Regions from separate parts of the Homo sapiens genome. Here all the other regions are linked to region 3. Evidence: fine-mapped expression QTL. A gene starts in region 3. Each other region holds a variant in brackets. All regions are shown on one strand. Distances are between the middles of the regions.

The links.
Region 1: its variant is fine-mapped to the expression of NEK3 in tibial artery (GTEx, PIP 0.92).
Region 2: its variant is fine-mapped to the expression of NEK3 in T cells (TOPMed, PIP above 0.99). The same link has a PIP of 0.9 or more in blood mononuclear cells.
Region 4: its variant is fine-mapped to the expression of NEK3 in whole blood (TOPMed, PIP above 0.99).
Region 5: its variant is fine-mapped to the expression of NEK3 in whole blood (TOPMed, PIP 0.97).

Annotation. Positions count from the first base shown.
Region 1 is chr13:52,135,056-52,141,799 of GRCh38, reverse strand. It overlaps NEK3 (NIMA related kinase 3), which reads left to right. Exons shown (of 16, transcript NM_002498.3): 11 at 731-780; 12 at 4,898-5,000; 13 at 5,541-5,684; 14 at 5,937-6,071. Among named protein-coding and RNA genes, the nearest start is that of NEK5, 9.4 kb to the right of the region's middle. The variant T/G (reference allele first, on the strand shown) is at 2,849.
Region 2 is chr13:52,012,811-52,018,704 of GRCh38, reverse strand. The region is part of intron 1 of ALG11 (ALG11 alpha-1,2-mannosyltransferase); the gene reads right to left. Among named protein-coding and RNA genes, the nearest start is that of ALG11, 3.4 kb to the right of the region's middle. The variant G/A (reference allele first, on the strand shown) is at 3,305.
Region 3 is chr13:52,156,716-52,163,459 of GRCh38, reverse strand. NEK3 (NIMA related kinase 3) reads left to right here and starts at 3,863. Exons shown (of 16, transcript NM_002498.3): 1 at 3,863-3,917. LOC124903176 (a long non-coding RNA gene) reads right to left here. Exons shown (of 2, transcript XR_007063806.1): 2 at 6,114-6,744. RefSeq lists silencers at 1,872-2,166, 3,927-3,986, 4,067-4,176.
Region 4 is chr13:52,374,353-52,381,096 of GRCh38, reverse strand. It overlaps THSD1 (thrombospondin type 1 domain containing 1), which reads left to right. Exons shown (of 5, transcript NM_018676.4): 5 at 2,308-3,930. The coding sequence ends at 3,686. Among named protein-coding and RNA genes, the nearest start is that of THSD1, 28 kb to the left of the region's middle. RefSeq lists enhancers at 2,668-3,167, 3,168-3,669. The variant G/C (reference allele first, on the strand shown) is at 2,598.
Region 5 is chr13:52,094,994-52,101,737 of GRCh38, reverse strand. NEK5 (NIMA related kinase 5) reads left to right here. Exons shown (of 24, transcript NM_001365552.1): 12 at 1,862-1,995. Among named protein-coding and RNA genes, the nearest start is that of NEK5, 31 kb to the left of the region's middle. The variant A/GA (reference allele first, on the strand shown) is at 3,306.

The DNA.
Region 1 (6,744 bases), 22 kb after region 3:
CCAAAAAAGTATAGTGTTACAGTTTCTAAAAAGAGGAATAAGTAGTTAGAGAAATGCCACCAGACTGGGACCATATGTCTGATGGCATCTCCAGTTTAATCTGTAGACAGACCAGAATAATGAAATGGAACAGGGCAGGGATTGCATCTGATTTGCTCACTCTTGTATTCTCAGTGCATCATCATCCATGTTCAATAGCAATTTTTTAAAACGTTGAATGAATAAGGGACATGAACCACTATGAGGCATAGCCATTCCTACCAAAGGGATCAATTGCCAGGGTTCTCTCCTGACTCCTCCTGCTGGTCTCTTCTGAGTTAATAAACAGCTCACTTCTTTTTAGGGATACTTATTCCACCAGCTGTGATAGCTAACAGGAAAAGCACGGACTCCACTAGCTAGCATGCACCAAAGGGGAAAATAACCTTAAGTATGCAGAGTATGTTACCTCTTAGTGCTTAAATGGGTTGGCATAAGTGAATAGAGATGTCTTTTAACTTTTGGATTTTAACTTTAGGAATGAAACAGTGGAAATAGCCTCTTTCAATAACTGAGATGTATTATTAGGTGATTAAAGCTTGTTATTCCCATTCAGGATATCAGAGAGCTTTGGCTCTTTGACTTTAATAACCTCACTCACTTCTCCAGCTGTATGAAAATCATATTAGGAACTTAATAGGATGATCCTTTATGTGTTTTATCTTTCTACCTTCTCTCTCTCTTTTAAAAGCAAACCCCAGCAGAATCAGGATAGCTTTGGGAAATGAAGCAAGCACAGTGGTAAGTGCTTTAAAATTACTTTTATGAGGCCGGGCGCGGTGGCCGGGCGTGGTGGTGCAAGCCTGTAATCCCAGCTACTCGGGAGGTTGAGGCAGGAGAATCAAGTGAACCTGGAGGCGGAGGTTGCAGTGAGCCTAGATTGCGCCATTGCACTCCAGCCTGGGCGACAAGAGCGAGACTTCATCTCAAAAGAAAAAAAATACGTTTATGAAATATCTACCTCCTGGATACCGGGTTACCCTTAAGTGCCATAAGATATTTGGAAGACTGTGACCTGGTCCCTCTAGTTAAGTACTTCTTCCTTCATTTTTTGGCATGGGAAATAACTGGTAGCTGTTCATCTGCACTGTCAGCTGAGCCACTTTAGGTCGCCATTTATTGTTTATTTTTCCATTTATTATTATTATTATTTGAGATGGAGTCTTGCTCTGTCACCCAGGCTGGAGTGCAGTGGCACCATCTTGGCTCACTGCAAGCCCCGCCTCCTGGATTCATGCCATTCTTCTGCCTCAGTCTCCTGAGTAGCTGGGACTGCAGGCACCCGCTACCATGCCCAGCTAATTTTTTGTATTTTTAGTAGAGACAGGGTTTCACTGTTTTAGCCAGGATGGTCTCGATCTCCTCACCTTGTGATGCACCCATCTCAGCCTCCCAAAGTGCTGGGATTACAGGCGTGAGCCACCGTGCCCGGCCTCCATTTTTGATTATTGATGATAGTGGTTTCAATACAGATGTGGAAGAATTTTGTCTTGCTTTCAGTCATGAAAATCTTGTGTTATCCTGGCTTTTTTTTTTTTTTTTTTTTGAGATAGGGTCTCACTTTGGCATCCAAGCTGGAGTGCAATGACGTGAACATGGCTCACTGCATCTTCGAACACCTGGGCTCAAGTGATCCTCCCACCTCAGCCTCCCAAGTATCTGGGACTACAGGCATGTGCCACCATGCCTAGCTTTTTTTTTTTTTTTTTTTGGCATTTTTTTAAAGAGATGGGATTTTGCTATGTTACCTGGGCTGGTCTCAAACCCCTGTGTTCAAGTGATCCTCCCGCCTCGGCCTCTTAAAGTGCTGGGATTATAGGTGTGAGCCATTGGGCCTGGCTGCTTTTTGGTTCGTTTATTTTGAAACAGAATCTCCCTCTGCCACCCAGGCTGGAGTGCAGTGGCGTGATCACGGCTCACTGCAACCTCTGCCTCCCGGGTTCAAGCAATTCTCATGCCTCAGCCTCCTGGTTAGCTGGGACCACAGGCACGAGCCACCGTGCCCAGCTAATTTTTTGTCTTTTTGTAGAGATGGGGTTTTGCTATGTTGGCCAGGCTGGTCTTGAACTCCTGACCTCATGTGATCTGCCTGTCTTGGCCTCCCAAAGTGCTAGGATTACAGGCATGAGCCACCACACCTGGCCTGCTTTTTGTTTTTTTATGGTGGTAGAATATACATAACATAAAATATGCCATTTTAGCCAATTCTGAGTGTACAATTGAGTGGTGTTAATTACATTCATAATACTGTGCAACCATCACTACTGTCTATTTCCAAAACTTTTTATCATCCCAAACAGAAACTCTGTACCTGTTAAGCAATAACTCCCTCTTCCACCACTGCAGCCCCTGGCAGCCTCTAATCTCAAATCTGGTAGCCCCTGGTAGCTGCTCAAATCTTTGTGTGAAATTGCCTATTCTAAGTATTTCATGTAAGTGGAATCATACAATATTTGTCCTTTTATGTCTGGCCTCTTTCACTTACATAATGTTTTTAAGTTCTTCTGTGTGTCAAAACTTCATTCCTTTTTATTGCTGTGCTGAAGCTGAGTAACATTTAGATTACTATTTAGATCTTAACATTTTTCTGTTCAATGCTTTGTAGCACCTCCTTGTTATCCCAAGAATCAATTTTCAGGCTGGCATTCGGGGTCCTGTTCATCTAGCCCTGGGCAACTGTGACATTCTTTTACACTGAAGCTTCCCTAAAGCTGTGGATATTAACAGCCGATCCATGTTTCAGTGTTGTCACACCCCCCTTAGCAAATTGTGTACTATTGATGTTTTTTTCAGTATTTCAGTCAACCTT[T/G]CTTTCTTTCCTTCTCTCCTTCTCTCTCTCTCTCTCTCTGTTGTCTAGGCTGGAGTGCAGTGGCGTAAACACCACTCACTGCAGACTCAACCTCCTGGGCTCAAGGGATCTTCCCACCTCAGCCTCTTGAGTAGCTGGAACTACAGGTGCATGCCACCATGCCCGGATAATTTTTTAACTTTTTTATAGAGATGAGGTCTCACTATGTTGCCCAGGCTGGTGTTGAACTCTTGGGCTTAAGTGATCCTCCCACCTTGGCCTCCTAAAGTGCTGGGATTTATAGGTGTGAGCCACTTCACCTGGCCTAACCTTTCAATTCAAAAAGGAAAAGATGTTGTATGACAACAAATTGCTCTCTTCATGGAATGTACTAGTAATTAAACTTTTAAATTTTTTGAATGAACCATAGGTTCTAAATAAATAACAACACCCCACCATTATGTTGCTACAAATGGAATACAGACCTCTATACTTTTTTTCTTTTCATTGTAATGTCTGTTTTTTCCAGTTTTTGAGGTATAATTTACATGCCACAAAATTTACCCATTTTTATGCACAATTTGATAAATTTTGGTGATGGTATTTAAATATCCATATAACCCCTGCCACAGTCATCATATAGAACTTCCAGGTGGGGCAGAGTGGCTTACGCCTGTAATACCAACACTCTGGGAGGCAGAGGCAGGAGCATTGATTGAGGCCAGGAGTTTGCGTCAAGCCTGGGCAACACAATGAGACCCCATCTCTACAAAAAATTAAAAATTTTAGGTGGGCATGGTGGCACATGCCTGTAGTCCCAGCTACTGGGAAGCTGAGGCGGGAGGATCGCCTGAGCCTGGGAAGTTGAGGAGGGCAGTGAGCTATGATCGCACCTCTGCACTCCAGCCTGGGCAACACAGCAAGACTCTGTCTCAAAAAGAAAAGAATTTCCATCCCCTAAAATGTTTCCTTGTGCCCTTTGCAGATGATCTGTGCCCACACGCTATAGTTTGATACCACCTGTAGTGAACACAGCAATATGTGTTCGCAAAATGAAAAGGGTGCAACATGTAAACAAAATGGAGAAAAGGCCAAAAAGTCAGTCAGGGAATGGAGGACTTGAGGTAGGAAAACTTGTGTGCAGGCCAGCAAAGGACGATGGCAATGAAGGCAGAGTTGAATAGCGCCCAGAGGAATGTGGGAGGCTGCTGCAGACACAGAAAGCAGTGATCCTCAATGGGAAGGAAAGACTGGAATCCCCTGGGGGGCTTTTCACAGCTGCCCCTCACCACTACTCCTCCAAGATTCTGATGTCATTCTTGAGTGTAGGAGGCTTTGAAATCTCTGCTGTAAGTGAGCTACCACTGTTAAGTGACAGATTTTTATGTTCCCTACATGTGTGGGAAGAGAAGTTTCAGAACCACTGCTTAGAAATAAGAAAACCCGCCATGCCACCCAAGCCTACTCTTTCTTTATTCATTCAATAAATATTTGAGAATTTGTTTGCCTGGGACTGTTTAGGCATTCAATATGTACTTCTTCTCAAAGTATATGCAGATTTAGTAAACCAGATAGTGTATTACTATATTTCACGAAATAAATCAAGGGCTTAGATAATTTGGAAAGATACTGAATTAAGTGGGAACATTTTGATTCTATATGGCAACTTTATAAAATATCTCATTTTGATATTATAGTTTGTAAAGCCCAGTACGGCAAACCATATTGAAATTTTTCATTAGTCTTTTCCTTAGTAAAGACTTACCAAATAGCTGTCATTTTAATATATCCTCTTCATATTTATAATAATTGATATTAATGGCTATTAATGTGTATGTCTATTAATATATACATGTATGTAGGTTTTTGGTTAATGTACATATATATGTTATTAAATACATATAGATATATATGGCTATTAATATACATGTCCTTGGGGTTCTATGATTATTCATGTATTTTAATCCATTAATTTTTATTTGAAATTAAAATGGCTGACTTTGCATATTTGTTTACCTTTTTGTGGCAATTCAAGCATTATTTAATCTGTATTGTTAATCTCTTTTAAAGCAAGAGGAAGAACAAGATAGAAAGGGTAGCCATACTGATTTGGAAAGCATTAATGAAAATTTAGTTGAAAGTGCATTGAGAAGAGTAAACAGAGAAGAAAAAGGTAAGTTATTCAAATTCTAATCATTTCTTAGGTGAGGAGTTGGGGAATACCAATTTTTATGTTACTAGGTCTCAGATATCATAAACAAGAGTACAAGCTGATATTTGTTTGCTTATCTAGTAACTTATTTAATGTTTTAGGAATATTTTATTTACCTACAACAAAAGAGAGAATAGCATTTATCAGTAAGAGTCATTAGAAAGAGCAGTATTTATTGTGCTATCCACCATAAAAAGCATAGCATACTGTGTGTATGTAAGTCCTCCCAGGGCTTCATTCTTGTATAATATAGAATATGTAACTATATACATATTATTTTTTTAACTCAGTCACTGTAATGGTTCGTTTTAATTTTTCATTTTGGATTTTTTTTTAAATTTCCTTTGCTACTTAGATTAGAAAGAACATTGATCTTTCAAACATAGATCTGAATATGAAAGAGAAAAGAAACACTTCCATATTTGTTAGAGTCTATGTGTGGACAGAGATGGATACATAATTTCACATGCTTGGCATTCCTTTTTCACACTTTAAAATCAGGTAATAAGTCAGTCCATCTGAGGAAAGCCAGTTCACCAAATCTTCATAGACGACAGTGGGAGAAAAATGTACCCAATACAGCTCTTACAGCTTTGGAAAATGCATCCATACTCACCTCCAGTTTAACAGCAGAGGACGATAGAGGTTAGTAGTCAGATTGAATACTATTATTTTATTAGAGAACTTTTTCTAATAGTTACTTAGTGCACTTAGAGCCTTTTAATGTCTGTGAAGGGTATTTGGCGTCACACATCAGAGCATTGCTCATACAGGTGAATGAAGCAGATTTTAGTTAACAGTCAAATATAACTAACTTCGCTTGAAAATATGATCTGGAAAGTACATGCTGAAAAATCTTTTTTTATTCAGCACTAATTTTTGTCTTTTTGCAACTAGGTGGTTCTGTAATAAAGTACAGCAAAAATACTACTCGTAAGCAGTGGCTCAAAGAGACCCCTGACACTTTGTTGAACATCCTTAAGAATGCTGATCTCAGCTTGGCTTTTCAAACATACACAATATATAGACCAGGTAATTCATGTCTGTATGTGACCTTGGAAACCCTTTGACTTTTTGAAAATTGTGGCAAATATATATAACATAAAATTTACATTTGAACCATTTTAAGGTGTACAGTTCAGTAGCACTAAGTACGTCACATTGTTGTACAGCCATCACCAGTTTCCATCCACAGAAATGTTCTCATCTTCCAAAACTCAATTCAAAGGGTTTCCCTCCTCCCAGAAACGCTTTGATTTCAAAGTTATAAAGTAATTCATAGCACTGTATTTTTAGGTGTTTTTTAATCTTTTCTAGCCAGTCTTAAGCTACAATTAAAATTTTTCATGGAGCTACATTACTTCTGTTTGCTCATTTGTTTGCTTATTTTCATAATCCTGCTACTACTTTCTTTGAAGAGGAGCCCATTTTTATCATGCAAATATGCCATTGCTTTAGCAACAACTCCAAGATTTCTTTTGTTGTATACCTGAACTCTGTTACATTGAATAGAGCTCAAAAAGGATGAACAATTAGGATTTGATTTTTAAATTTTTTTACAGATATTTTTACTAACATTGTATAAAATAATTTTTTTATAATACTCTCCTTAGGAATCCAGGCCAGTGGTCTGTATTAGATATGTATATGTGTATGTGTATTATAATTATAATAATTTAATTACTAAGCCATCTTGCTAGGTTAA
Region 2 (5,894 bases), 140 kb after region 3:
TCCTGTAGCATGTTACCAATTGAACATACTTTAATCAGCAGTAAAAATCAACATTGAACCCCCTTTCTCCTGACTTAGTATATATGTTATGGGATTAAAACAAATTTAACTATTAATCTAAACAAGACATGATTAAGAATGTGTTATATACTGTCATTTTGAGGGTCAGATGCCAAAAAAAATATGTCTTTTGAACGATCAATATTCCACTAAAGTCTGGTAAGATAGTAAATCTTTTTCATTCCATCACTTCACCTCAAGTAGAACAATTTCTGGGATAAAGGAATGGAACTTAGATTTCTCCACTTCTATTTCCAGTTCTGTATTTGCTCTATTTACATGATCTAATACTACTACCTTCCCTTATGTACCTCTGAATGAGCTGCCAAAAACCCACTAATGTTCTACTTAATACTCATTAGTAAACTCATTCACAAAGTGACTGTTAAAAGGTTCTCCATTGCTGTCAGGTCGATTGAAGCTCTGCAAAAGCAAGGGCCCAGGCTTGCTCATACCATGTCCCCAATGCCAAGTACGATGCCTGGCACAGAGAAGGCATCCAATGAATATATGACGGATGCAAAAGTTTATTACGTCTTCAGATGTTGCTTAAAATGTGTTAAAATAAAATGCCAAGGTGCTTTTCTTTTAGGGTTGCCAATACAGTTGGAATCTAACTTAATATTTTTCATACTCTGCCTATCCTTTATAAAGGATTTGAGGAGGGCTTATAAGATTTAAAAACAATAAAATGCCAAAAGTTAAATAATAAAAAGTCAGGACCAGTGAAAATAGAATAAAGATGGTGTGTATGTTGGGATGGTGGTTGATGATGGACACAGGTATGCAGGCTGTATTTACATACATAGTAGTGAATAGCAGACTGGGCTCTGGGCTGCTCAGTAGCCTAGGCAAATAGGGGATGTTTTGTGTAGTTACACAGTGTATTACTTCGTTTTCACACTGCTGATAAAGACGTACCCAAAACGGGGAACAAAAAGAGATTTAATTGGACTTACAGTTCCATATGGCTGGGGAGACCTCAGAATCACGGCAGGAGGTGTAAGGCACTTCTTACAGGGCAGTGGGCAAGAGAAAAACGAGGAAGCAGCAAAAGCGGAAACCCCTGATAAACCCATCAGATCTCATGAGACTTATTCATTATTATGAGAATAGCATGGGAAAGACCGGCCCCCATGATTCAATTACCTTCCCCTGGGTCCCTTCCACAACACATGGGAATTCTGGGAGACACAATTCAAACTGAGATTTGGGTGGGGACATGGCCAAACCATATCATTCTGCCCTGGCCCCTCCAAATCTCACGTCATCACATTTCAAAACCAATTATGCCTTCCCAACAGTCCCCCAAAGTCTTAACTCATTTCAGCATTAACCCATATGTCCACAGTCCAAAGTCTCATCCGAGACAAGGCAAGTCCCTTCTGCCTATGAGCCTGTAAAATCAAAAGTAAGCTAGTTACTTCCCAGATACAATGGGAGTACAGGTATTGGGTAAGTACAGCTGTTCCAAATGGGAGAAATTGGCCAAAACAAGGGGGTTACAGGGCCCATGCAAGTCCAAAATCCAGTGGGGCAGTCAAATTTTTAAAGCTCCAAAATGACCTCCTTTGACTCCAGGTCTCACATCCAGGTCATGCTTAAGCAAGAGGTGGGTTCCCATGGTCTTGAGCAGCTCTGCCCCTGTAGATTTGCAGGGTACAGCCTCCCTCCTGGCTGCTTTCATGGGCCGGCGTTGAGTGTCTGAGGTTTTTCCAGGCACACGGTGCAAGCTGTCAGTGGATCTACCACTCTGGGGTATGGAGGACGGTGGCCCTCTTCTCGCAGCTCCACTAGGCAGTGCCCCAGTAGGGACTCTGTGTGGGGGCTCCAACCCCACATTTCCCTTCTGCACTGCCCTGGCAGAGGTTCTCCATGAGGGCCCTGCCCCGGTGGCAAACTTTTGCCTGGGCATCCAGGCGTTTCTATACATCTTCTGCAATCTAGGTAGAGGTTCCCAAATTTCCATTCTTGACTTCTGTGCACCCGCAGGCTCAACACCATGTGAAGCTACCATGGCTTGGGGCTTTCACCCTCTGAAGCCACAGCACTAGCTCTGCATTGGCCCCTTTCAGCCACGGCTGGAGCAGCTGGGACACAGGGTACCAAGTCCCTAGGCTGCACACAGCACAGGGCCCCTGCACCTGGCCCACAAAACCACTTTTTCCTCCTGGGCCTCCAGGCCTGCCATGAGAGAGGCTGCCATGAAGGTCTCCGACATTGCCTGGAGACATTTTCCCCCATGGTCTTCAGGATTAACATTAGGCTCCTTGCTACTTTTGAAAATTTCTGCAGCCAGCTTGAATTTCTCCTAAAAAAATGGGTCTTTCTTTTCTACTGCATTGTCAGGCTGCAAATTTTCTGAACTTTTATGCTCTGTTCCGCTTTTAAAATGGAATGCTTTTAAGAGCACCCAAGTCACTTCTTGAATTCTTTGCTGCTTAGAAATTTCTTACACCAGATACCCTAAATCATCTCTTTCAAGTTCAAAGTTCCACAAATCTCTAGGGCAGGGGCAAAATGCCTCTAGTACCTTTGCTAAAACATAAGAGGAGTCACCTTTCTCCAGTTCCCAACAAGTTCTTCATCTCCATCTGAGACCACCTCAGCCTGGATTTCGTTGTCCATATCACTATCCGCATTTTGTTCAAAGCCATTCAACAAGTCTCTAGGATGTTCCAAACTTTCCCACATTTTCCTGGCTTCTTCTGAGCCCTCCAAACTGTTCCAGCCTCTGCCTGTTGCCCAGTTCCAAAGTCGCTTCCACATTTTTGGGTATCTCTTCAGCAGCACCCCACTCTACTGGTACTAATTTATGGTACCAAGTTCATTTTCACGCTGCTGATAAAGACATACTCGAAACTGGGAACAAAAATAGGTTTAATTGGATTTACAGTTCCACATGGCTATGAGGCCTCAGAATCATGGCGGGAGGCATAAGGCACTTCTTACATGGTGGCAGCAAGAGAAAAATCAGAAAGAAGCAAAAGCAGAAACCCCTGATAAACCCCATCAGATCTCGTGAACTTACTCACTATCACGAGAATAGCATGGGAAAGATTGGCCCCCATGATTCAATTACCTCCCCCTGGATCCCTCCCACAACATGTGGGCATTCTGGGAGATAAAATTCAACTTGAGGTTTGGGTGGGGTCACGGCCAAACCATATCACATAGTTTTCACTGCCCACATGAAAACATACAAATTCATCAGAAAAGTAAATTTTGCTTTTTTTAGATACAG[G/A]GTCTCACTCTGTCACCCAGGCTGAAGTGCAGTGGTGCAATCATAGCAATCACTGCAGCCCCAAACTCCTTGGCTCAAGCGATCCTCCTGCCTCAGACTCCTGAGAAGCTGGAACTACAGGTGCATGCCACCACACCCAGCTAATTAAAAAAATGTTTTTTGTAGAAATAGGGTTTTGCTATGTTGCCCAGGCTGGTCTCAAACTCTTGGCCTCAAGTAATCCTCCTGCCTTGGCCTTCCAAAGCATTGAGATTACAGGCATGAGCTGCTGCACCTGGCCAGAAGTAAATATTTTATTGATATTTAGTTTTGACATAAAGTTCTCATGTGGGATTTCCTATTGTGAACAAATCCTCATTTGTTCCTATTGTGAACAAATCTCATGTGGGATTTCCTACTGTGTACTTGAAGAGGTATTTGACTCTATTTGAAATCCCACATGAGCACTTTATTTCAAAGCTGAAATAATTGGTCTAAAATAATTTGGTCTTTATATTCTTTATACACCTTTATACTCTTAAAAATTTTACTGAGGATACAATAGAGCTTTTGTTTACATCAGAGTTTCTCATCCTTGACACTACTGACATTTTGGACCAAATAATTATTTGTTGCGGAGGTTGTCCTATGTATTATATTTAGTAGCATCTTTGGTCTTGACCCACTTAGATGCCAGTAGCACCCTCCCAATCAAAATTATCAGTTGGGCATGGTGGCTCATGCCTGTAATCCCAACATTTTGGGAGGCTGAGGTGGGAGGATTGCTTGAGCCCAGGAGTTCAAGGCTGTAGTAAGCTATGATCATGCCACTGCACTCCAGCCTGGGCAACAGAGCAAGACTCTTATCTCTAAAAAAAAAATTAAAAAAAAAAAGCCCTCCAGATATTGCCAAATGCCAAATGTCTTGCGAAGGGCAAAAATCACCCCTGGTTGAGAACCAGTGGTTTACACTGCTTATATCTACCAATATTTAGCATATTAGAAATGAAAACTAAAGAACTTTAAACTTTTTATGAATTCATTTGAAAATAAAAATTCTTTCATAACACATTAACATATTTTTATTAAAAAACTATCTTTTCCAAACCAAAAAAAGAAATTTAGCAAGAAGGGTGCCAATGATTTACACTTTTTGCAAATCTTTTTAATGTCTGGCTTAACGTGAAACCAGATAGTGGCTCCTCCTTTCTGTTTCTGCATTCAATCTAGTGATATGTTGTTTTTGTTGAAGTATATGAAGAAAATTCAGGCTAACTTAGACATGTAGTAGGAAAAGGGAGTATATTTTAATATATATTGATCTTATGTTTAAAATATATTTAACTTTTCAGCTAGTTACAGATATTCTTCTCTGATGCTAGACCACATTTGACAAGTTATGCAGTTTCTTAATGTCAGTTGCAATACAGACTCTGAAACCCTATCAATGACCTTTTCACACTGTTAATTAAAATCCACTATCACTTAGTTTTATCCGCTATCACTTTTGCACTTATCAACATAGTAAAATAGGCAAATATTACATTAATGTTATTATAAAAACAGATTTGTTGAGGATCCATTGAAGGGCCTTGGGACCTGCATGGTCCATGGAGCACAATTTGAGAACCACTGCCTTAAAGGATGAACAGAGTCTGACAAAAGTGGTAAGATTTATCATTTATTTAACATTTGGAATATATGAATTCATAAAAGCAACACTACAGAGGACAGTTTGCTTTCTCAGGACACTCTTTCAAAAGCTTATTTAAAATGCAGCTGACCCATATAATGTAAAGGTTTTTCTGGCAATTCCTTCAAATAATTTAGGTGGGAAAATTCATGTGACAAGCTTTTCAAACTGAACTATTAAACATTTAACTTAAAAGCTGCATAATAACTAAAGTTAAACCTGTCCTTTAAGTCTGGTTAGTGAGTTTATTTAAACATTATAATGTAAAGCACTGAGGAATATTACGTATGACAGGGAAGAACCAAAAGGCTCTGATAACAGACTTTCTCATTCAAAATGTTTAAAGTAATGATTACAGAATTTGAAGTAGAGTGGACAAAAACGAAGAAGAAATGCCTGAACTTTTGAAAGAATTAGGTATATACTGCTATTCAGGAAGCTATGGTGTTAATTATAAATTTTCAGCCTGAACAAAAATATGTAGGTGGTAAAAAAACTAGGTAGGTAGAATATACTAGGCCTTCTGTTTTATTAGTGGAGGGCAAGGCATTTAAAATACAGTAGTACTACAACAACAAAGGTGGAAAAAAGCCTGGGAGTTTTTTCACCAAAATGTTAACAGTGGCTATCTCCGGATGGTAGCATTCCTGGGGTTTTTTCCTTTTACTTATCTATTTTCTAATTTTTCTAGAAGAAACAGCATATACACGTAATACAAATAAAATAATATTTTATGTAACTTCTTACATCATAAAAATTAAAGTAACAGATTATCAAAAAGCAGAGGATTCAACATAAGCTTTATATTTAAGTGACGTGTTAACAATGGCAGTTTTGGTGAGTTTAAGAGTAGAAACTAAGATGAGAAGGAAGATCCGGTTTCTTCTTTACCGAAAAGAGACATGATAGATTGGAAAA
Region 3 (6,744 bases):
CCTGCAGTCCCAGCTACGTGGGAGGCTGAGGCAGGAGAATCACTTGCACCCCGAAGGCAGAGGTTGCAGTGAGCTGAGATGGCGCCACTGCACTCCAGCCTGGCGACAGAGCGAGACTCCATCTCAAAAAAAAAAAAAAGAAGACTTAGTTACAGAAGGGAATATAAATGTTATCAGTTGTGGAAATCTAAGAGAGTACAGCTTTGAAAAGTTTGGAGGTACAGAGGTTTGAGGCTGCAATGAGCTATGATTGCACCAGAGGTACTCCAGCCTGGGCAACAGAGGGAGGCCTCATTTCTAAAAAATAAGAAATTTGGAGGTAGAAGCAGAGGTGGGGAGTTCAAGGGAAGTAAGAGTTCTTCCTATCATGAAATGGAGAACCAAGAGGCGCTGTCTGTATTTAATAGAACTAAAAACAACAGTTTAAGGATATTAAAGTTACTAAAGTGAACAATAGGACTAAATCATAGTGTTAACTACCATGTGCACCTTAGGGGGGTGAATTAAGCTGACTTTTTATCAGTCCTTGCAAGAGTCAATAGTGTCACAAAATAGCAGCTTAATCCTATTCATACAGTTGAAGATCATCAGGAGAATTTAAAACCACAAAGGTCAAAGTGGTTGCCCTTTGGAAGTGGGACTGAAGCTGGGGAGATAAAAAGCAAGGAACAATTGCTTTTTGTTCTAGGTCTTCCTCTACTCAACTTTTTTTTTCCCCTTTGACAAAACAAAAACCAAACATAACAATCCTGGTGAGGGTCAGAGATCATCTATTTTAATGCCTGGAAATATATTCGGTGAGTCATCTTGTGGCTCTTAAACCAAACCGAAGTTAAAAAGTATAAGAAAGTCTATATAACTGTAGACTACAAAGCAGTTAATACAGAGTGAAAACTCCCAGTCATCTCAGGAGAAGTGGCGTTTTATTATTTCTGGATATATCCAGAAGCTCTCCTGGCTGGGTATCCACAGCTTGGCAACAGCTGCATAAAAAGGGGGCCAGACCTTCTCTCACCATCCCCTCTCCCTACCCTCACCAGTCTATTCTTACTGACTTACAGGTTGAATTGCATCCCCCACAAAATATACGCTGGAGTCCTAATGTGCAGTACCTCAGAATGTGATCTTATTTGGAAATAGGGTTGTTAAGGATATAATTAGTTAAGATGAGGCCACACTGGGGTAGGATGGTCCCTCAATCTGATATGACTGGTGTCCTTATACAAGGGGAAATTTAGACTCAGAGACAGTACACATAAAGGAAAGGCAATGTGGGGGAGAAGAAGGCCATCTACAAGTCAAGTACAGAAGCCTGGAACAGATCTTTTCGTTCCAGCCCTCAGAAGAAACCAACACTGTCAACACCTTTATTTTGGACCTCTAGCCTCCAGAAGTATGAGATAATAAATTTGATTAAACCATTCATTTAGCTTGTGGGACTCTGTTACAGCAGCCCTGGCAAACTAATACACCGATGGAACAAGGGAAAGAATCCCTTTCATGACTGCCATCATTGGGTGGGAAAGAAAAGCATTAAGCACCTTTGTCATCTTCTCCCCTGATGCTGTCACAAATTTAATCTGATAGAAATCTGTCTTTTGCTCAGTTCTCAAGAGCAGCATTCTGAGTACAGGCATGGGCAGTATTTTTTTTTTTTTTTTTTTAGACAGAGTTTCGCTCTATCACCCAGGCTGGAGTGCAGTGGCACGATCTTGGTTCACTGCAACCTCCGCCTCCCAGGTTCAAATGATTCTTATGCCTCAGCCTCCCGAGTAGTTGGGGTTACAGGCGCCACCCACCATGCCCAGCTAATTTTTGTATTTTTAGTAGAGACAGGGTTTCACCATGTAGGCCAGGCTGGTCACGAACTCCTGACCTCAGGTGATCTGCCTACCTCGGCCTCCCAAAGTGCTGGGATTACAGGCCTGAGCCATCGTGCCTGGCCTTCTTTGTTTTTAATTGAAACTAGTCTTTGTATAGAGTACAAAGAAAGCAGTGCAGATGTTGTAAATGTTGATTTGTAGCATTTCCCTTCTCTTATCACCACACTACAGAATAGTTGTACATTAACTTTGACATTGTGGAAGGAAGGCAATTGGAGCTGGCCAGAGCAAAGCCATTTTGTTCCTGAATGCCATTTTACAACTGCCTGACTGCAGAATGTACTTGCTGATGTTGCAGACAAAATTGCTGCCATTATGAAAAGGACTTCATGCTGAGGACTGAACTTTTCTCAAACCCCTGAATCAAGGACTTTTGCCTAGAAACCAATGAACTGTCATGATAACGCTTTATCTTCAATCAAAATAGTGGGTTACGAAGGTTATGGATGAACTAGTGAGAACTGACTTCTTACTTCCTTTAAAAACCCTACCCAAAAATAGCTGGTCAGGACACAATTCAAATGCTTCTGGAATCTGTGTTCCTTGAACTGCAATTCTCAGACTGCCAATAAACTTCTTTACTTGGATTTCGGTCTCTCTGACTCTGGTTGACACGTTATAATGAACACGTTCAGCGCTTACAAGTAAAGGGTAACCAGATGTTGTTCACAGTAATCCTATGAGGTAGGTTCTATACTTTTATACAGAGGGATTTAGTTACTCTGCTGTATTAGTTTCCTAAGGCTTCTGTAACAAACTGTGACAACCTAAGTGGCTAAAACGACACGAATTTATTACCTTACAGTTCTGAAGTTCAGAAATACAGCTCACTGGGTTAAAATCAAGGCGTCAGTGTGCATGGTGGTTTTCCTGTAGTCCCAGCCACTCAGGAGGCTGAGGTGGGCGGATCGCTTGAGCCCGGGAGCTCAAAACCAGTCTTGGCAACATAGCAAGACCCTGTTTCAAAAAACAAAAAAATCAAGGGGTCAGCTGGACTGTTACTTCTGGAAGCTCTGGGGAACAATTTGGTTTTTGTTTTTTGTTTTTCCCTCCTTTTCTAGCTTCTCCTCCTTTTCCACCTCCCACCTCCTCCTTTATATATATATATATATATATATATATATTTTTTTTTTTTTTTGGAGACAGGTTCTTGCTCTGTCACCAAAGCTGGACTGCAGTGGTGGGATCATGAGCCCTCTCCAGCTCTAGTGATCCTCCTGCCCCAATCCCCCGAGCAGCTGGGACCACAGTGCCCGTCGCTATGTCTAGTTAATTTTTCGTAGAGACGAGTGTCTCACTATGTTGCCCAGGCTGATCTCGAACTCCTGGGCTAAAGTGTTCCTCTCCTGCCTCTGCCTTCCAAAGCACTGGGATTGCAAACATGAGACACTGTGCCTGCTCCTCTTCCAGCTTCTTGAGGCCAGCTGCATTCCTTGGCTGTTGCCCCTTCCTCCACCTTCAAATAGCTTTCTCATACTGACCTTCTTTTTGGGCCCCTTCCACTTTAGAGAACCCTTGTAATTACTTTGTAATTACCCAAGCACACACTCCAAGATCGTCACCTTATTTTAAAGTCCGCTGATAAGCAACCTTAATTCCATCTGCAATCTTAACCCCCTCTGCCAAGCAAGAGAACAAACGCACAGGTTCCAGGGAGTAGGATGTGGACATCCTGAGGCGGAAGCATTATCCCGCCTTCCACAATTGCCCAAGGTCACATAGCTAGTAAGTTCTAGCTAGCACTGAGTGCTGTGCCCGTGAAATTTATCTACATAGGCTTTCACTTAACCTGCAGACAGAACTCAGTTAGTCGGGGACAATTTCCCTCAATGTTAACAGCACTGTTCCACCGCAACGTGGAACAACAGCTTTAAAACGTGCTCTTCGTAGGCCCGGCTACTCCAAGAACAGTGCCTCCCGCCAGACCCAGGCGGCTTCCTTCACCCGCAACCCGAGAGACGACCCGCCGGGCCCGCCCCGCGGAAGCCGCCGGTTGCCAGGCCAAGGAGTGGACTAGGGTCGCCGGGGAAGCGGGTGAGTGGTCCCCGCCCTGGCGGGCTGCCTCTAGAACGAGGAGGGCGGCGCGTGGTCGCGGCGCGGAGCCGAGTGGGAGCGAGGGGTAGACGCGCCCCGGACGCGCGGCCGCGCCCCTCACTTCCGCCCCGCGGTCTGGACCACTCGCCGCAAACCCGCAAGTCCCTCGCCGCCTTGGGGTCTGGGCGCGCGGTGCCGTGGGGGTCAGCAGGGCGGAGCGGCTTTTCCAGGAGAAAGGGCCCTCACGGGTGAGCGGGGCGACTGGGCTCCCCCGCGGTGCAGTTGCCCCGCGGGCGCCGGCCCCGGCTCAACGGATTCTTCTCGCTCGCTGCCCGGAAAGAACCAGTGAGAACCGCTGTTGCAGCAAAAAAAGAAGTTAATAAGCGCAGGGCTGGCCAAACCAGAACAGGGTCTCAGACCTGTCTCCCCGAGAATTCGGGGGCGAGGGTTTTAAAGGGCATTTTGGCTTCGGGGGGCTGGGGAACTGAAACAGTTGACCGGCTGGGGATGAAATCACAAGAGCTTCTGAAACTCGGGGCGGCTTCGTTGGTTCCCAGGAAGGGGTGGGGTCAGTTTCCCTTGTCTTGAAGTTTACACGAAATCCCTCTCCCAGTTATCCTAGCCTCTGTGCTAGAATAAGAAAACGACAACACGGTGAAAACTTAGCCCGTGAGGTTAGAAGCAAGATGGAGTCAGTCATGTTAGATTTCTCGCATTACTTATACATCTGTAAAGGTGGTTTCAGGGACCTTTCTGAACTTAGCCCGTATCTCACTGGTGATCCCACTTCTGGGTATTTGCAAATCACTTTATTAGGTTTTTAAAAGTATTGTTGCAGGCATGCGAAGGGGCCGATATACTTTTGCCATGTCCAGAGTGTATTCAGGTCTTGTAATGATCATATGGGTGTAATATTGAGTAACAGGCAAATGTGGGCAGAAAATATCAAATGTGGTTTTCAGCTAAGAAGTCTGGTTGCTCTTAATTTTCAGTTACTCTCCATTGCATAGAATAAAGCCCCGAAGAAACGAAGAATAAGATCATGGGGAAACTTGGCTTCCATGTTAAACCGTGTAATACCAGGTGTTAGAATAGTAGTAAAGGACTTGTTTCTTTCACATCTATATACACTCAAAAGACCTCATCGATCTTGGAAAAACATTGTTTCGAAGACAATGTGTATGACTGATTTGGTTATATGAAGAAATTATTTCTAGGATTTCCTGGTAATTCTGTGATAAACAGTAATACAAACTGGAATTTTTACAGGTCACTATAGTAGAGGTTTTAGTTTGATTTTTGCTTTGCCTGTCATGCTCTCTCTGCCTTATAATTCTTTGTGGTGTAATTAAAAAACGAACACTAGGGCCGGACGGGGTGGCTCACGCCTGTAATCCCAGCACTTTGGGAGGCCGAGGCGGGCGGATCATCTGAGGTCGGGAGTTCGAGCCCAGCCTGACCAACATGGAGAAACCGCGTCTCTACTAAAAATACAAAATTAGCCGGGCGTGGTGGCGCATGCCTGTAATCCCAGCTACTCGGGAGGCTGAGGCAGGAGAATCACTTGAACCTGGGAGGTGGAGGTTGCGGTGAGCCGAGATCGCACCATTGCACTCCAGCCTGGGCAACAGGAGCGAGACTCCGTCTCAAAATAAAAAACAAACACTGTAAGCTTTTTGAAAAATCAAGTAAATTCATTACAGTGTTTTTCCTGCAATGAAAAAGAATGCATCACTTCCCTAAGGTTTTAATAATCATAATAGCTGCCAGTTATTCAGGACCTTGTATGTACCAGGCAAAGTGTTAGGAACGTTTTATCCATTTTCTCTTATGTGCTAAGCAGTCCCGCTAGCTGCTTCATCCTGGAAATATAGATGGGAGACTGAAGTCAAGGACTCCAACTGTGTGTTTAACATCTCTCTTGACTCCCAGGAACCTCCAGTTTGGCATGTCCAAAATGAAACACATGTCTGTCTTCTATCAATATGTTTTGCCCAACCCCTGCAACACTCCCACTTCCAGAAAAATCACACAAACAAAAAACCACACACACAACCATTGTGCCTTTCCTCTCTCAGGGAGTGCCAAGAAACCATCTGGTTCATGCCAGAAACTTGGGAGTCAACCTTGCCCCCTTCTCTGCTTGCCCCCCATAAATCTGCCACCACAAATCCTGTCAACTGTTCTTACATCTTTCCTTCCCATTTTTTCTGACCCCATTGCCTCCACTCTATTCCATTTCATTATTTTCCTGCCTTTTCTATTGTTGGAGCCTCCTAACTGGCCTGTGTCTCTGAGCTGGCCTTCCTGCCCCTCCTCCACTGGTCCATTTAATCTGCAATCTGAGTGAATGTTTTTTCTAATATGCAAATATGATTATATTGCCTTCTTGGTTAAAATGCTTCAGCAGCTTGTTACATTCTTCTTTCAATTTCTTGAACTGAATGTAATTTCTTTAGCTCTTAAATATGCAATTTCCTCTTCCTTGATTACTCTTTTCCTCCTCTTTGTCTAGCCAAGTTTCATTCATCCTTCAGGCTTCAGCTTAAATAGCCTACATTTGTTGAGGTTTATGGTTATCTCTGCATGGGATGTCCACGTTGGCAGGGACTATGAGAGATTTTTCAGATTATAACATCTGACTCAGAGTTGGTGCTCAGTGTCTGCCTGTTGTATGTAGTATAGGGGAGGAAAAACATTTTTTCTCTGCCCTCTTAGGTTCAGTAGCTGGGCCCTGCAAAATAAACTGATGAAAGATAGATTAACAGGAAAAAAGGTTTATGCATAAATGTAAAGAAGTGGTTAGACCAGGGGGCTCATATGCCAT
Region 4 (6,744 bases), 220 kb before region 3:
GTAGTAATAGTGAGTGAGTGAGAGTAGTGAACACAGCTAGAGAGTGGGTTGAGCGGTTTAAGATTTTAGAAGAGGAGCAGAGAGTGGGAAGGTACTATATGTTGGATGGACCTGAAGCCACCTGGATGGTCCTAGCTCTGGCATAGTGAGGGAGGCTGGGACCCAGGTGCTAGAGTGACTGATGGCTAGCAGGAGGTTGGGAGATGATGGTGTTGAGGGAGGAGTAGAACGGTGGTTGGCAAGGATGGCATGGGCATCAAAGGAATGGAAGTTTTTTATGGAGGTGAAAGAGCACAGGTTGGAAAGAGCAATAGGAATGAGCTTGGGGAACGCACTCTGCTTCTTGCCCTGTTTACTTATAAAGAAAGTATGTGTAATCCCAGCACTTTGGGAGGCCAAGTTAGGCAGATCACGAGGTCAGGAGATCGAGGCCATCCTGGCTAACATGGTGAAACCCCATCTCTACTAAAAATACAAAAAAATTTAGTGAGGCGTGGTGGTGGGTGCCTGTAGTCCCAGCTACTCGGAAGGCTGAGGCAGGAGAATGGCGTGAACCCAGGAGGTGGAAAAGAAAAAAAAAAAAAAGGAAAAGAAACTATGTGTGACAGCTTCCACTGAGAGGATTGGGGGAAACCATGCCCTGCAGGGTAGCCTGGCTTCAGTTGGGACAAGGAGGTGAAGGTGGTGTTCTGTGGAGCAGTTAGGGATGTTGGGGAATTTGTAATCAGCTGTCCCCTAGGGGACAGTACAAAGAGTGGGCAGTGGGAGGACGGGTGGAGAAGATGAAGCACAGAGCTGGTGGTGATACAAACATGGGAAAAAAAGCCATAGGACTGGTGACCAAAGGGGAAAGAGAGGGGAGGGTCAGGTGGCATTAGTTGGTCTCAGGTTTCCAGGTGTTTTGGTGGCAGTACAGGTGGAGGCTCCAGGTGGTGCCTGCATTTTGATGAAACATTTTGATGACCGTGGGACAAACCAGTTTGAGGAGGGAAAAAGAAGAAAAGTACCCCTCACAATGGAAGGTAGGAAGGGGAGTGGATGGCTGAAAATAGAAGAGAGAGAATGCAGAGGCTTTAACGCTTAGGAAAGACAATTTCTGGATAATAGAAGGGGGAAATGAGTTGTATTATGTATTGCCAAGTCTTACTTTCGTCAGTTAATTTCCCTTAAGATGTACATATGTAGGAACCTAAATTTGGCCTACCTAAATCATTTTGCATTTCACATTTTATACTTCCGATGTGCCTCTCAGAGGTACATTTAACAATAGGTACCATGTTTACATTATCGTAAGTGAACACTGACTTTTATCTTGAAAATTTCTGGCTGGGCGCAGTGGCTCACACCTGTAATCCCAGCACTTTGGGAGGCCGAGGTGGGCAGATCATGAGGTCTGGAGTTCAAGACCATCCTGGCCAACATGGTGAAACCCTGTTTTTACTAAAAATTAAAAAATGAGCCAGGGGTGGTGGCATGCGCCTATAGTTCCAGCTACTCAGGAGGCTGAGGCGGGAGAATCACTTGAACCGTGGAGGCGGAAGTTGTTGCAGTGAGCCGAGATCGTGCCACTGTGCTCCATCCTGGGCGACAGAGCAAGACTCCGTCTCAAAACAAAAAAAAAAAGAAAAAGAAAATTTCTACATGCTACTTCTGTGTGGAAACTTGGAGGCCAATTCCAGCAGGAGCTGGTGAGCATGGGAGTCACCTTGATTATGGCTTACCAGGTCACCTCGCTTCTGTGGGTCTCTGTTTTTGCAGTGTTTCCCCTTTGGTGATCTTGTTTGGCTTCAGCTGCCAGCAGAAATCCATATGTAAGACCAGAAATCCCAGTCCTTGTTTATTTTCCATCATTCCTTAACTGCTAGATAATTAGAGTGAGTGACTCAGAGACCTTAAAACCGTGCAGAGCAAACAATACTAGAAAATACATATTTGGGCTGGGCACAGTGGCTAACACCTGTAATCCCAGCACTTTGGGAGGCCAAGGCGGGTGGATCACAAGTCAGGAGTTCAAGACCAGCCTGCCCAATATGATGAAACCCCAGCTCTACTAAAAATACAAAAAAATTAGCCAGGCGTGGTGGTGCATGCCTGTAATCCCAGCTACTTGGGAGGCTGAGGCAGGAGAATTGTTTGAGCCTGGGAGGCGGAGGTTGCAATGAGCCGAGATCACACCATTGCACTCCAGCCTGGGCAACAGAGCAAGACTCCATCTCAAAAAAAAAAAAAAAAAGAAAAGAAAAAGTAAAAATACATCTGTTCCTCTGTGTTTTTTGTTTGTTTGTTTTGTTTTGTTTTTTTTTGCAGCTTTCCAGCCATCCAGCCCATCTCCTCTTCAGCCCCAGGGTCCAGTGAAGTCCAACAACATCGTGACTGTCACTGGTATATCCTTGTGCTTGTTCATCATCATTGCCACTGTGCTCATCACGCTGTGGAGGAGGTTCGGCCGGCCAGCCAAGTGCAGCACACCTGCTCGACACAACTCCATCCACTCCCCCAGCTTCCGGAAGAACTCGGACGAGGAGAATATCTGCGAGCTGAGCGAGCAGCGCGGGAGCTTCTCGGATGGGGGAGACGGGCCCACGGGGAGTCCAGGG[G/C]ACACAGGCATCCCTCTGACCTACAGGCGGAGCGGGCCGGTACCTCCCGAGGATGATGCCTCTGGCAGCGAGAGCTTCCAGTCCAACGCCCAGAAGATAATCCCACCTCTGTTCAGCTACCGCCTTGCCCAGCAGCAGTTAAAGGAGATGAAAAAGAAAGGTCTGACGGAAACTACCAAAGTGTATCACGTGTCTCAGAGTCCCCTGACAGACACTGCCATTGATGCGGCCCCCAGCGCTCCCTTAGATTTGGAAAGCCCGGAAGAAGCTGCAGCAAACAAGTTCCGGATCAAATCCCCATTTCCGGAGCAGCCCGCGGTCAGTGCCGGGGAAAGGCCTCCCTCCAGGCTGGATCTAAATGTGACTCAGGCCAGTTGTGCCATAAGCCCCAGCCAGACTCTGATCCGCAAGTCACAGGCAAGGCACGTGGGCAGCAGAGGGGGCCCGTCCGAAAGGAGCCATGCCAGGAACGCCCATTTCAGGAGGACAGCGAGTTTCCATGAAGCCAGGCAGGCCCGGCCGTTCCGAGAGAGGAGCATGTCCACTCTGACTCCACGGCAGGCCCCTGCCTACAGCTCTAGGACGCGGACCTGCGAGCAGGCAGAGGACAGATTTAGGCCTCAGAGTCGAGGTGCCCACCTGTTTCCTGAAAAACTGGAGCATTTCCAAGAGGCAAGTGGAACCCGTGGTCCATTAAACCCTCTCCCTAAATCCTACACTTTGGGGCAGCCCTTGAGGAAACCAGACCTTGGGGATCACCAGGCAGGATTAGTGGCCGGAATTGAGAGAACAGAGCCCCACAGAGCTCGTCGGGGACCGTCCCCCAGTCACAAGAGTGTCTCAAGGAAGCAGTCTTCTCCCATATCCCCCAAAGATAACTACCAGAGGGTCAGTTCTCTGAGCCCTTCTCAGTGTAGAAAAGACAAGTGTCAAAGCTTCCCCACTCACCCTGAGTTTGCCTTCTATGACAATACGTCGTTTGGCCTCACTGAGGCTGAGCAGAGGATGCTGGACCTCCCAGGATATTTTGGGTCAAATGAAGAGGATGAAACCACAAGTACACTTAGCGTGGAGAAGCTGGTGATCTAGACTGAGAATCAGCCTGAGCTTTACACAGCTGGGGTCTGCTACTCGCGTTTTGTAGACTTTTGTGTAACTATTTGTACCGTAGGACAGAATGTGAGGAGGAAGTAACACACAGAGGAGGATGTGTGTGTATGCATGTGTTTGAATTCACAAGGAAGAAATTATTTATCTTGAGCTTTTTCCTTTGTTATTCAATTTCTATTGATTTATTAGTAATAACAATGATAATAAAATGTAAATGAGCAAATGGGGCTTGGTCTGTCATGTGGCTATGAAAGATAAGATGTGACTTTTGAGTAGAACATGCTCTGAACATTGCATTGGCAGTTTCCAACCTGAAGCAGAAATCTGGAACCTCAACTAAAAAGGGATGGAGCGAAGTTAACTTAGTGTCATAATTCTGAATTGCAATTTATTAAGTTATAAATACATTAAGAATTTGACTCCTACAATGGCAGCATCAAACAGATTTCATATTTGGCTGATTAAGTTAGTTATGACCATTAGACTGCTGAACTACTTAGAAATGGTGATACCACAGATATTCAAGAACTTTCAGATTAGAGTTGAGTCCAGGTGACTTGACAAAATTATATGAATTAATTCTGCTTTAAAGAGATAATGTAAGAAGCTGGTGGTTCAGGTAGTGAGTCAAATGAAGACCTATCTGTTCTGAGCAAATAAATAGTAAACATTTTGGAAAGGACAGTATTGTCTTCTGAGGAAATGGGCAGTAGGTACTGACCATGCCACTACCTGGGACCAGGATGCTGATTACATGTTCCTGGACCAAACTGGCAGCAGATACCTCAGCGTGAGAACTGGTGCATGTATGTTTTTCTTAAACATAACTTTATCATGTTGTTCAGAAAATGCATTAATTAGGTATATGTAAAGTAAGTAGAACAGTTTACAATTTTTTATAGTTTTTACAGTTTACAATTTTTTACAGTTTAAGCTTTTTTTTTTTTTTTGAGACGGAGTCTTGCTGTGTTGCCCAGGCTGGAGTGCAGTGGCGCGATCGCAATCTCAGCGCACTGCAACCTCCACCTCCTGGGTTCCAGCGATTCTTCTGCCTCAGCCTCCTGAGAAGCTGGGACTACAGGTGCTCACCACCAGGCCTGGCTAATTTTTGTATTTTTAGTAGAGACAGGGTTTCACCATGTTGGCCAAGCTGGTCTGGAACTCCTGACCTCGTGGTCTGCCTGCCTCGGCCTCCCAAAGTGCTGGGATTACAGGTGTAAGCCACCACGCCCAGCCAAGCTTTTTTAGTTAGAAGAATGAATTAAAGAAGGAAATAAGCCTTTTTAGACATTTAGAATCCCTTTTGTTTGTGTTTGCAATCTTCTACACTTTACAGACAAAGCTTTTTTTTTTTTTTTTTTTTTGAGACGTAGTCTAGCTCTGTCACCCAGGTGGGAGTGCGGTGGCATGATCTTGGCTCACTACAACCTCTGCCTCCCGAGTTCAAGTGATTCTCCTGCCTCAGCCTCCTGAGTAGCTGGGATTACATGCACCTGCCACCAGGCCCAGCTAATTTTTGCATTTTTAGTAGAGACGGGGTTTCACTGTGTTGGCCAGGCTGGTCTCGAACTCCTGACCTCGTGATCCACCTGCATCAGCCTCCCAAAGTGCTGAGATTACAAGCATGAGCCATTGCACCTGGCCACAGACAAGACATTTGAGATACAGGGAGAATAACAGGATTGGCTAGGACATGCACTGATAACATTATTGTAAATATCATGCTCTTTCCACTCTACCATCACAAACTTTACAAGTCTTTTTTTTTTTTTTTTTTGAGACAGAGTCTCCCTCTGTCACTCAGGCTGGAGTGCAGTGGCACAGTCTTGGCTCACTGCAACCTCCGCCTTCTGGGTTCAAGCAATTCTCGTGCCTCAGCCTCCTGAGTAGCTGGAATTACAGGCATCTGCCACCACATCCGACTGATTTTTGTATTTTTAGTAGAGACAGGGTTTCGCCATGTTGTCCAGGCTGGTCTTGAACTCCTGACCTCAAGTGATTTGCCTGCCTTGGCTTCCCAAAGTGCTGGGGTTACAAGCATGAGCCACCATGCTCAGTCTACAAGTCTTTTCTAATAGCAGAAACATCAGGAGAAACCTGGCCCTTTTTAAGAGGGTATGAAGAGACACTTCTATTAGCTTTTCCCAATGGAAAGAAGCTTTCCATTGCTTAATGAAATGTTAGGACTGGTTTTGCAACTTGCTTTTTTTGGCAGTAAAGGCCAAACAAAAGAATCTAAAGGTTTTGTTCCTTTATTAGAAGTCTGTCATTAGTTTTAGTTACCACATGGGCAGTCTGCAATCTCATGTACTCCTTTCAACCCTTGACCCTAATGACTTATCTGTATCCCTAGAGTAGCTGCATTTTTCTTCTTTTTCGTGGTGACCTCTCTAACTGCCACACCCACCCTGCCTTTTAGATTTTGTTTTCTGTCTTCCTTTTAGAGTTTATCAGGATGTCAGCCTGCAGGTGATGTTTCAGGGACCATTGGAGAGAGTGAAATTAGATGGGAAAAATATCACAAATGCAAATACTGCAGTTTTCTATTTTTCTCTCATATTTGTTGCATTGCCACTTCATTTGTGTCATTTTAATTGAAAATCAAAATATACCTCCTTTCGGCAATGTTTTAACATTAATTACCTTTTAGGAATAAGAGGAGTAGATTATTCAGAGTTCTCGGACAGCTGGTATTTGCTAATGCCAGGAAGAGGAAACCAGATTTTTTAATCTTCATTTTCTTTGTTTATCATGCTAGAAAGCTTTGTTGTCTTTCCAAGTTCACAGGCCTGCATGCCAACCTTTGAGGACAAAGGGTACATGCTTGCTTGTTTTTGATTTCACAGTGATGTACCCTACAGTGTCAGACCAAAACAGATATGGGAAAGGTGGAAAGTAAAGGAAAATACTATGAACAGAAAGATTTTCTGTTAAATTATGTTCTTATCCGTTATAATCAGACATCTAAATTAATATCGCAGTGAGCTAACACCAGCATCTAACATTTTCTCTATCTACCTAGCCCACTTTTCTGGAG
Region 5 (6,744 bases), 62 kb after region 3:
GACCTGCAGGGTTCCTTCTCGTTAGTCAGGAAACCTCCATGAAGCAGAGGACATGCTAATAGAGATGCTTGAAGAGGTTGAGCCCAAACTTAACTTTTGTGTAGTGAAGGGACAGAGTGGGAGAAGGTTGCAGATAGACATGGATGATGAGATGAAACTTATTTTTCTAAAAGAGGATAGACTGGCAATTAAGAATTCTGTTGCAAAGGACCATTGGAGCTGAAGTTAGGATCTTGGGGCCTAATTGATAACAGTAAGAACTGTTACTTTGTGGTTCCCAAAGAAGGCAGGAGATATTTTATGGTAGTAATAAATACAGAAAACTTTTTTTTTTTTCCGAGACGGAGTCTCGCTCTGTCGCCCAGGCTGGAGTGCAATGGCGCGATCTCTGCTCACTGCAAACTCCACCTCCCGGGTTCATGCCATTCTCCTGCCTCAGCCTCCCGAGTAGCTGGGACTACAGCCGCCCATCACCACTCCCGGCTAATTTTTTGTATTTTTTTAGTAGAGACGAGGTTTCACTGTGTTAGCTAGGATGGTCTCGATCTCCGGACCTCGTGATCCGCCCGCCTCTGCCTCCCAAAGTGCTGGGATTACAGGCGTGAGCCACCGCGCCAGGCCGGAGAAAACTATTTTAGTCCTGGTGTCAAGAATCAGCTAAGCTGTGTGTCAGAGGGAGGGGTACGTTAAGAAAGAGAAAATTACTAATTCATTTGATGCTGTGAAAGTCAAAGCCCCAGAATTTAGCTGTAACTGAATGCCTGGACTTACAATATCAGGAGGAGCAGAAAGCCTCTCAAAGGAATCCATGACAGGGAAATGTTATCCATTGAGACAGAGATTCTAAAATCAAGGAAAGTTAAAGAGAAAGTGAATGAGCCTCTTTGCCATTTAATTTGACTAACATTGTTGTATACCAGTCTAGATTGAGAATGTTTAGAAAATAGACAAGTACAGAGTATGGGACTGTGTATTGTCCATATTTCTAATCTAGGTAAGATAGGAGAACAAGAACAATTTTTTTTTTATTGAGATGGGGTCTCACTGTGTTGCCCAGGCTGGTCTCGAACTCCTGAGCTCAAACAATCCTCCTACCTTGGCCTCCCAAATTGCTGGGATTACAGGTGCGAGCCACCTTACTCAGCCCAAGAACAAATTTTGATGGAGATAAAGACAAGCATTAGAAGATCTACTCATACCTCAGTCCTGGCACTTTGGGAGGCCAAGGAGGGCAGGTCACCGGAGGCCAGGAGTTTGATGCCAGTCTGGCCAACATGGCCAAACCATGTCTTTACTAAAAATACAAAAATTAGCTGGACCTGGTGGCCCATGCCTGTAATCCCAGCTCCTTGGGTGGCTGAGGCACAAGAATCGCATGAACTCGGGAGGTGAAGGTTGCAGTGAGCTCAGACCCTGCCACTGCACCGTAGCCCGGGTGACAGAGTGAGACTGTCTCAACAAAAAAAAAAGAGAGAAGATCTACTCATAAATTCCAAACAATGTGGCATGAATGGAGTGGCCTGATAACCCAAGCTCTAATGACCAAATTTAATAACTTTTATTATTACCCCATACATATTGTTTCTGTAAATGTTAATATTAATTTCTATTTTTCTGAAAAAAAGTGATGTTATATATTACTAGAAATATGCAAAGGGACTCTGAAAAAATGGTTTTTTTCATTTAAAGAAATTGCATATTAATTTTTCATCAGTACTCTCACTGTGTGTAAAATATCTCTGGCTAAAAAGTAAACTTACTGTGTTATGAAATGTAGCTTATGTTTATACTCTTACAAGTATCAGTATTAATGGTGTACAATTTTTAAAAAATTGAAGCTGTTTTATTTTGGTTAATTAAGAGTGTAAAATACAAAAAGTGAGATTCCAGGGAAAGTGCCCACCAAGATCAAGGATATCTGTGCCAATTAAAAGGAATGCTATATTGCATAGAAATGAATGGAGACCACCAGCTGGAGCCCAGAAGGCCAGATCTGTAAGTCATTCTAAACCCTCCTTTGTGTTTTTTAGCTATGGTATATGCTTTTTGTTTGTTTGTTTGTTTGTTTTGAGACGGAGTCTCGCTCTGTCGCCAGGCTGGAGTGCAGTGGCGCGATCTCGGCTCACCGCAAACTCCACCTCCCGGGTTCAAGCAATTCTTCTGCCCCAGCCTCCTGAGTAGCTGGGACTACAGACGTGTGCCACTATGCCCAGCTAATTTTTGTATTTTTGGTAGAGATGGGGTTTCACCATATTGGCCAGAATGGTCTCCATCTCTTGACCTCGTGATCCACCTGCCTGGGCCTCCCAAAGTGCTGGGATTACAGGTGTGAGCCATGGCGCCCGGCCCCGGCTAATTTTTATACTTTTAGTAGAGACAGGGTTTCACCATGTTGGTCAGACTGGTCTCGAACTCCTGACCTTGCGATCAGCCTGCCTCGGCCTCCCAAAGTGCTGGTATTACAAGCATAAGCCACTGCACCCAGCTGTTATATTCTTTTTCTTTAATTTTTTAATTAAAAAAAAAATTTTTGTGGGTACATAGTAAGTGTATATATTTATGGGGTATATGAGATGTTTTGATACAGGCAAGCAATGTGAAATAAGCACATCATGGAGAATAGGGTGTTTGTCCCCTCAAGTATTTATCCTTTGAGTTACAAACAACCCAGTTATACTCTGTAACTTATTTCAAAATGTACAATTAAGTTACTATTGACCATAGGCAGTCTATTGTGCTATCAAATAGTAGGTCTTATTCATTCTTTTGTTTTTTTAACCCATTAAGCTATGGTATATTCTGACAGACCTATCTGCACATGTTCATGAGGTACAAGCTTATTGTTTGGAGTCCACAAATTTTGTACTTAAAATGAAGTATTCTGTACTGAGCATTATAATGGTATTTTGTTGGACAACTTCTAGTTTTTATATTTTATGAAACAATGCTGTATGCTCTTATAAGTATACTTTAGGCTTAATTTTCTTTTTATAACTGAAATTCTTCTAATTTCTAATAAATAAGATTTTTCTGTATAGGAAAAGTGAGTAACATAGCAACAGAAAACACTCTGCATTTAATATTCTTAATTCTAACATATTATGTATAGGATTGAGAAGTTTTTATGATATAATAATTGATATTTCCCTAGTGATTCTTTGTGTTTAATTATTTGAATTCACTTCAGCAGAGTGTTGAATCTTTTAGGTCATACTAGTGAAATGCTTCTGGTATGTAAATGATAAAATGGCTACTGTCTTTTAATTAAAGAATTGTATTTTTAAAGAAGGCTCATGGTTAAATTA[A/GA]GAACCATTTGGAAGTGTATTTACTAAGTGTTTACTTGATATATAGACATTTTAGAAAATGTGTTGGTATATAAACATTTTTTTAAAAACCGATTGTTTAAGTTATTGCCCTTCATTTGATAAAGGGCTTTATTTATTTATTTATTTATTTATTTATTTATTTATTTATTTGAAAGAGGGTCCTGCTGTGTCACCCAGGCTAGAGGGCAGTGGCATGTCTCAGCTCACTGCAGCCTGGATGTATTAGTCTGTTCTCATACTACTATAAAGAACTGCTTGAGACTGGGTAGTTGATAAAGACAAGAGGTTTAATTGGCTTACAGTTCTGCAGGCTGTACAGGATGCATTGCTGGGGAGGCCGCAGGAAACTTATAATCATGGCAGAAGGGGAAGCAGGCTCATCTTAAATGGCCAGAGCAGGAGAAAGAGAGCAAAGGGGGAGGTGCTACACACTTGTAAACAACCAGATCTCTGGAGAACTTACTATCACAAGAACAGTAAGAGGGAAATCTGTCCCCATAATCTAATCACCTTCCACCAGGCCCCTCCTCCAACATCAGGGATTACAATTCAACATGAAATTTGGGCAGGGACACAAATCCAAACCATATCATTCCACCTTTGGCCCCTCCCAATTCCCATATCCTTCTCACATTGCAAAATACAATTATCCCTTCTCAACAGTCCCCCAAGGCTTAACTCATTTCAGCATTAACTCAAAAGTCCACAATTCAAGGTCTCTCTGAGACAAGTCAAGTCCCTTCCACCTGTGAGGCTGTAAAATAAAAAACAAGTTAGTTACTTCCAAAATACAATGAGGGTACAGGCATTGGGTAAATACACCCATTTCAAAAGGGAGAAATCAGCCAAAACAAAGGGTTTATAGACCCCATGCAAATTCAAAACCTAGCAGGGCAGTCATTAAATCTTAAAGCTCCAAATTCCTTTGACCCCATGTCTCACATCCAGGGCATACTGGTGTGAGGAGTGGGCTCTCAAGGCCTTGGGCAGCTCTGCTCCTGAGGCTTTGCAGGCTACAGCCCCTGCGGCTGCTCTCACAGGCTGCTGTTGAGTGTCTGCGGCTTTTCCAGGTGCGTGGTGCAAGCTGTCGTTCAATCTACCGTTTTTGGAGTCAGGAGAATGGTGGCCCTCTTCTCACAGCTCCACTAAGCAGTGCCCCAGTGGGGACTCTGTGTGGAGGCTCCAATGCCACATTTCCCCTCTGCACTGCCCTAGTAGAGGGTCCCCCTGAAACAGGCTTCTGCCTGGACGACTAGGCTTTTCCATACATCTTCTGAGATCTTGGTGGAGGCTCCCACGCCTCAACTCTTGCACTCTGTGCATCTGCAGACTTAACACCATGTGGAAGCCACCAAGATTTACGGCTTGCACCCTCTGAAGCAATGGCCTGAGCTGTACCTTGGGCCGTTTTAACCATGGCTGGAGCTGGAGCAGCCACAATACAGGACACCATGTCCTGAGGCTGCACAGAGCAGTGGGGCCCTGGGCTTGGTCCTCAAAGCCATTCTTCCCTCCTAGGCCTCTGGGCCTGTGATGAGAGGGGCTGCCTCAAAGGTCTCTGAAATGCCTTCAAGGCATTTCCCCCATTATCTTGGCTAACAACATTTGACTCCTCTTTATTTTTGAAAATTTCTGCAGCTGGTTTGAATTGCTCCCCAGAAAATGGGTTTTTCTTTCTAGGCTGCAAACTTTCCTAACTTTTACACTCTGCTTCTCTTTTAAGTATAAGCTCTGGTTTTACATCATTTATTTGCTCACAAATATGACCATAGGGTGCTAGAGCAGCCAGGCCACATCTTGAATACTTTGTTGCTTAGAAATTTTTTCTGTCAGACGCCCTAAATCATCACTCTCAAGTTCAAAGTTCCACAGATCCCTAGGGTAGTGGCACAATGCCTCCAACCTCTTTGCTAATTCATAACAAAAGTGTCCTTTGCTGCATTTCTCAATAAGTTCCTCATCTCCATCTGAGACCTCCTTAGCCTGGACTTTATTGACCATATCACTATCAGCATTTTGGTCACTATGATTTTAAGAAGTCTCTAGGGCATTCCAAACTTTCCATCATCTTCCTATCTTCTTCTGAGCCCTCCACGCTCTTCCAACCTCCGCCCATTACCCAGTTCCAAAGTCACTTTCACATTTTCAGGTATCTTTATACAATACCCCACTCCTGGTATCAATGTACTGTGTTAGTCCATTCTCATACTGCTATAAAGAACACCTGAGACTGGGTAATTTATAAAGAAAATACATTTAATTGGCTCACAGTTCTGCAGGCTGTACAGGAAGTATGGCTGGGGAGGCCTCAGGAAATTTATAATCATAGCAGAAGGGGAGGCAGGCTCATCTTACATGCAGGAGGAAAAGAGTGAAGGGGTAGCCGCTACAAACTTTTGAACAACCAGATCTCATGAAAACTCACTCACTATCACAAGAACAGCAAGGGGGGAATCTGCCCCAACGATCCATTTACCAGGCCTCGTCTCCCAACATTGGGGATTACAGTGCAACATGAGATTGGGCAGAGACACAAATCCAAAGCATATCACTCGACCTCCCAGGCTGAGACACAAATCCAAAGCATATCACTCGACCTCCCAGGCTCAAGTGATCCTACCGTCTCAGCCTCCTGAATAGCTATACTACCGGTATGCACCATGATGCCCAGCTAGTTTTTACTTTTTGTAGAGTCAGGGTCTCACTGTGTTGCCCAGGCTGTTCTTGAATTCCTGGGCTCTAGTGATATGCCCGCCTCAGCCTCCCAAAGTGCTGGGATTATAGGCGTGAGCCACTGTGCCCAGCCTAAGGGCTTAATTTTATTAAAGAAATAAGAAAAGTATGTTGTGATTCAGAGGACTCTTTATCAGACCTGTAGAAGGGAAAACACATCTAAAAGATTTGAGGATGAATTAAATTACGAACTGTTGAACACGCTGACATTTTTCCAGTTCCTTGAAAAGGTAAAATTGATTTCCACAGGAACTACCTCTGATATTCCTATTACTGTTGGGATGTTAGAGAACATTTTAAAGAAAATGTTTATTGCCTTTCAATACTTTTCTATATTTTTTACCACTTTTCAACAAGTCATTAGTAGCATTTTCTTCTAGGTTGTATATAGGTGAAATTGTAAAACAAAGAAAACTACTTCTTGTTTTAAAAGATTTTAAAAATAGGCAGGTGCAGTGGCTCACGCCTATAATCCAACACTTTGGGAGGCTGAGGCAGGAGGATCATTTCAGCCCAGGAGTTCGAGACCAGCCTGGTCAACACATTGAGACCCCACCTCTACAAAAAGTAAAATTAAAAAAAAAATTTTTTGTTTTTTACTGGACACAGTAGCATGTGCCTGTAGTCCCAGTTACTTGGGAGGATGAGGCAGGAGATCCCTGGATCCCAGGAGTTTGAAGCTGCG